Regions from separate parts of the Homo sapiens genome. Here region 2 is linked to region 1. The links come from fine-mapping of genetic effects on plasma protein levels. Region 1 holds a variant in brackets. A gene starts in the other region. All regions are shown on their reverse strands.

What was found. PIP is the posterior inclusion probability: the model's chance that the variant is causal. Protein levels are from antibody-based Olink assays in UK Biobank. Linkage for the fine-mapping came from a reference panel and not from the study's own genotypes, which makes the PIPs less certain.
Region 2: DRG2 starts here. The variant in region 1 is fine-mapped to the plasma level of the DRG2 protein (UK Biobank, PIP above 0.99).

The regions. Positions count from the first base shown.
Region 1 is chr6:116,570,520-116,573,427 of GRCh38, reverse strand. RWDD1 (RWD domain containing 1) reads right to left here and starts at 1,924. Exons shown (of 7, transcript NM_015952.4): 1 at 1,773-1,924. The coding sequence starts at 1,845. RefSeq lists enhancers at 1,670-1,769, 1,990-2,319, 2,350-2,529 and a silencer at 1,870-1,949. The variant C/G (reference allele first, on the strand shown) is at 1,910.
Region 2 is chr17:18,086,353-18,089,260 of GRCh38, reverse strand. It overlaps DRG2 (developmentally regulated GTP binding protein 2), which reads right to left and starts at 1,313. Exons shown (of 13, transcript NM_001388.5): 1 at 1,174-1,313. The coding sequence starts at 1,237. RefSeq lists enhancers at 429-928, 886-935, 986-1,305, 929-1,430, 1,496-1,655.

The DNA.
Region 1 (2,908 bases):
GGCTCATCTGATAATGCAGAATACCTGAATGCATCAAAAGATTCATAAATTGTCTTTTATTACCCTGGCTCAGAATCCTCAAGCACTTGGGCATCTGATAAGAATTTCACATAGCGAACTATACCAGAGCTGTCAGGGCCTAGTACAATTTGAAATACCCACAAGATTATTTCAGGGTTAAAAACAAAAAAAGATATCAGTTTTATAAATGCTTATATGCATAGGATTTAGCGAGGGATAGCTTATGTCCAAAGAAATGAAAAGAATAGCACATCCTGCTGTCTTGACTCTGCCTACAGTGTTCATACCTAGTATGTTTCCAAAGTACTGGAAATGACCAAACATGATTAAGAATATATCCAACAACTGACCCTATATTCTATTTTAGACATACACATATAAGCAAGGATAGAGAAGGGAGCCAGACTCCATACACACTCACCCAGTTAATGACACTCTCAAACCCCTCTTCACTCATCCCCTTAACATCCTCACAGCACAGATGTACTGCTGGTGAGAGAGAACATGAACAGGACTGGAGCTATACAGGGATAGCTGAGAGACATCTGCCTGTTGGCAAAGCAGAACAAAATTTGCTACCATTGCAAGCAGTGGTCAAAAGGTGAAGCCAAGAAAACTAAGCTAAACAATGAAAGGGAGAGGGGTTGGAATTTATAAGTTAAAGTAATATACCTTACACTATAAATTCTGACTATCAACGATAGGCAACACTCAAAGGAAAGGATGGGGAATGTAAATGCACACACCTAGGTTCTACTCACTCATATTGGCTTTATTTGACCGCTTCTCAAATCTCAGAGGAGCCATATTGATATAGTTATGTAGCATTTTTATAATCATCCGAAGCATGGCTTAATAGAGAAATCTCGTCCTCTAAATTATACCTAATGAACTTCTCATTATAATATTTTACATTAGCCCAACCTACCAAGTAATCTTCTGCTCTCTCAATCTCAGCTGGAGCTGAATCCCAAGTCCCATATGTCTGGAAAGTGAAAGAACAGGCAAGCGTTCTGGACGTATAACTCAGTACCAGCCCTGCCGCTAACTCGCTGGCGGACAGTACAGAGCAAGCCACTTAGCTTTCCTGAACCCCCATGACCTTGGCTTGGAGCAGGAGCCCCAGGATAGATGATGTTTAATCTCCCTTCCAATCTAACAACCTATGAATTTATAGCAGAACGGAAATTTGGGCCACATTATCCATTAGGCATTCTGCTGAATGCCAGATTTTTTTTTTTTTCATAAGAAAAGAAACCCGACAGACTTCAGGGACTATGCTACTCTCAAAACCGATTTGAGTAACTGAAAACAGCACTCTGAATCCTATAAACTAAAACAGCATCGTATGAAAAACAGTTTCTACCTTAATAAAGCTAAAAATGTGAAAACTAACATTCTTGCGGCTGTGGAAAAACGAATCGCACTTGGAGTATTTTTTCTCTTAATGTATTATAAATCTCAGGTTGCTGTAGGTTACACAGAAACCAAAGTAATCCCGACTCAATTTTCAGGCCTGACACCCTCCAACATCACCCGGACTTTTAGATTTCCGGGAACAAGCAGAGAAGGAGAAAAAGTCACTGGGTTGCTGGTAAGTGACTGAAGAACTTGAGGAGTGGAGGGCAAGGTGGCCGCGCGGCCTCAAGGTCCCCTTCTCCACCCCAACCTATGAGGCCCAGAGCTGCGGCAGCTCCTGCCCGTCCTACTCCACCTCGGGGCGGCTACAGGCTTGCGGCCGCGGGAGTCACCTGTGAAGGAGTCAGGGTAGATGGACTCCAGGGCCTCCAGCTCGTTGCGCTGCTCCTCGCCGTAATCTGTCATCGTGGCCCTTGCTCTTGCCCATAGATCGCCCAGACACCTAGGCGGCGCGCAGCAGCCCAGACAG[C/G]TGCCGCGCCGGGAGAGCGGGCGGCGGCCAGGCGGGCGCAGGCGCAGAGTCCCCGGCTGGAAGGCCCAGGGCCCAAAGCCAGACCCGGCTTGCTTAACTGCAGCTCCGCGCCGGCCTCCGCCTGCTCCCTACTTCCACGTTCGACTCGTTCTGCCTGGCCAGGGGGCACTGATTTGCTGCCTGTCCCACACTCGCTCGGGACTTGCTGGGACGGTGCGCGCGGTCTGGCATTCGCCAAGGACACCTACAGCCGGCTCCTGGGCTTTGCAGGGCCTGAGCCTTAGAAGCCTCTCAGCGCTGCATCCTCGCTCGATGAGTCTGGGCTGAAAGGCCGGCATCGCGCGTCAGTGAAGGATAGTGTCGCTGGTGGCCGGGCTGGGGCGAGGGGCGTCCGATGCCTTCACCTTTTCTGGTTTCCGGTTTGACGCCGTGGCGTAGGTGCTGCGGGCTTGCAACCTAGTGTGGACTGGTGGGGCTCAGGAGATTTCTGAGCTTCTCGAACTCCGTATTGCTTGGCGTCCTACGGGAGTTGGACGAGAGGCTGGGACCAGTGTAGATTCCACTGGGCAGGGGAGCAAAAGCTCTGCACTGCCTTGAATGAGTATGGAAGGGTCGGTCTAACTGCTTAATAAGTCGGGGTGGATCCAGGAGGGAGAAATAGACCGGAGGTCCGGCTTCTCGGTTCAGATCTTTAGGCTTAACTTCTGATTTTGTGAAATGAACGCAGCTGGACGTATGATAGATCTCAAGATGTCTGTGATTGTGTATTTGTGAATTGATGAAAGGAATGTAGATCTCAGTAATAACAATTATCATATGCAATGTAAAAATTGCAGTACCCCGAGAAATGTTGAGAACCTTTAATTTGGTAATACGACTTCCAAGAATAAACTTGAGCAAGTAGCATGCATCTGTGATCTCCAAAATCATTGCAGCAATTACAAAGAAAATTTTCAAAGAACCATGATGGCAAAAGCTAAGAAAATGGCTAAATAAACA
Region 2 (2,908 bases), not on the chromosome of region 1:
AGGCTGAGGCAGGAGAATCGCTTGAACCTGGGAGGCAGAGGTTGCAGTGAGCCCAGATGGCACCACTGCACTCTAGCCTGGGTGACAGAACAAGACTGTCTCAAACAAACAAACAAAAAAGATTTACAGAAGGAATGAGTCATAGAGGGCCCTCAACTCCTTGGCCTTCAAACCTAAATGGAACCAAGGGAGGGCAGACACTGGGACCAGCTATCTAGTGTTGCTTGCTTCCTGCTCCCACAAGCCTGAATGGCTAGCCACTAGCCTGGCCAATTGCATCTCCCATTACTCTTCCATAACCCCCTTCTGATCTAGATTGTTCTCACTGTCCCATGAACATACCATGCTCACTCCCATGTCTTTGTCTCAGCAGTGGCCCCCACCTGGGATACCCTTCCAACAACCAGCTCAAGTCCCACTTTGTCCTGGTGTCATCGTTCTCTCCTCACCTCTCTTCTGTGAGCTCCTCCAGCCCTTACATTCTAAAGTCCAGATTTGAGGCTTCATTATGTATTATCTATGTTGGGGTGTTTACTTTAAATACTGAGTGCTCACCATGTGCCCAGTGCTTTGTAAAGGCCATCTAATTTAACTCAGCTGTGTACTAAGATGGAGCAGGGGAGTATTACCCCATTTACAGATGAGGACACTGAGACTCCAAGAAATGAAGTGACTTTCCAATGTTTTACAGAAGGTACGTGGTGGACCTGGGGCTCAAACCCAGGCCTTCCAGACTCCAGAGTCCTGATTCCCTTGCTCCAATGGGCTCTCAGCTGCTGGGTGAGGCTGTTCCTGAGAGGTCTCCTCTTGCACTTCCCAAAACAACAGAGTAGACCCAGGCCCCAGGCCCAGCCATCAGGAGACTGAGGTTTGAACCCCAGCTCCGCCTCTCTCTGGGTCAGATGCTTGCTCTGTGAGCTGGGACTACTCTACTCGGGCACACGGTCTGGGACTGACCAGATCTCTTGGGGTACGTTTGCAGTCAGACCTGGGCGTGAGACCCGCTCCCGCCTGGCCCTGCCTTGGGCGCGCAGGGCGGCCTCGGCACTTGTCTGGCAACTTCTCCGCGGCCTCGGATCTTGCCCCAGCATTACTGCTGGAGTTGTTCCCCCATTTTACAGACAGGAAAACTGAGGCAGGCAGAAAGGAAGGCCCCGCCCGGCCGGCCCTCACCCTTGTTCTTCTGTGTCCGAGCGATCTCCTTCTCGATCTCCGAGATCTTCTCTAAGATCCCCATGGTAGCAGCAGAGGTGGGCGCACAGACAGCGGTGGCGGCGGCACCGGCAATTCCGGTCTGACGGCGGCGACAGAGTAGCGTGCGCCCGGAAGCCAAAGAGAACAGCGTTCTCGTGGGCGCCTGGTGCTCCAGGATTCAGAGTCCGGGCGAGCCAAGTGCCAGACACTATCGGTTCCGCCCGCTGGGCCGGCCAGGCTGCGGACCTCTGGAAAGAGCCGGGGCGGGGCCGGGCCATGCTGTACTGGCCCACGGCTGCGGCTGGCAGGAGCAAGCAAGGAAGAGAGGGAATCTGCCCGTGTTGAACTCTGAACTGCGGGTCCCTGAGCGCAGCTGACTGGCAGTGTAAGGAAAAGGGGCTGAGCCGAAAGCCTAGTGGCTTTCATTTTATACTATAAATGGAGGTGTCCAATCTTTTGGCTTCTCTGGGCCACATTGGAAGAATTGTCTTGGGCCACACGTAAAATACACCAACACTAACGATAGCTGATGAGCTTAAAAAAAAATCGCCAAAAAAACCCTCAATGTTTTGGCCGGGCGCGGTGGCTCACGCCTGTAATCCCAGCACTTTGGAAGGCCGAGACGGGCGGATCACCTGAGGTTGGGAGTTCGAGACCAGCCTGACCAACATGGAGAAACCCATGTCTACTAAAAATACAAAATTAGCCGGGCGTGGTGGCGCGCGCCTATAATCCCAGCTACTGGGAAGGCTGAGGCAGGAGAATTGCTTGAACCCGGGAGGCGGAGGTTGCGGTGAGTGGAGATTGCGCGCCATTGCACTCCAGCCTGGGCAACAAGAGCGAAACTCCATCTCAAAAAACAAACAAACAAAAAACCTCAGTTTTTTTTTCTTTGTTTTAGTTTTGTTTTTTTGAGACGGAGTCTCACTTTGTCATCCAGGCTGTAGTTCAGTGGTGTGATCTTGGCTCACCGCAACCTCCGACTCCTGGGTTCAAGTGATTCTCCTGCCTCAGCCTCCCAAGTAGTTGGGATTACAGGCGCGTGCCACCACACTCGGCTAATTTTTGTATTTTTAGTAGAGACGAGGTTTCACCATGTTGGCCAGGCTGGTCACGAACTCCTGACCTCAAGTGATCTGCCTGCCTCAGCCTCACAAAGTGCTGGGATTACAGGCGTGAGCCGCTGTGCCCTGCCTAAATTTCATAATGTTTTAAGAAAGTTTACGAATTTGTGTTTGGCCACATTCAAAGTGGTCCTGGGCCACATGTGGCTGCAGACCTCAGGTGGGACAAGCTTGAAGAGGTTCAAAATGGATCCCCAAGATGCTGCCACTGCACTCCAGCATGGGCAACAGAGCGAGAACCTGTCTCAAGAAAAAAAAAGTGGATCCCCATACCACCTTTTTTTTTTTTTTTTTTTTTTTGAGACAGGGTCTCACTTGATCACCCAGGCTGGTGTGCAGTGGCGTGATCACAGCTCACTGCAGCCTCGACCTCCCAGGCTCAGGTGATCCTCCCTCCTCAGTCTGGGAGAAAATCAGCCACCGCGCCTGGCTGATTTTTGTATTATGTTGTAGAGATGGAGTTTCACCATTGTTGCCCAGTCTGGTCTTGAACTTCTGAGCTCAAGGAATCTGCCAGCCTTGGCCTCCCAGAGTTCTGAGATTACAGGCATGAGCCACTGCACCTGCCCCCCATACCACCTTAACGCAGT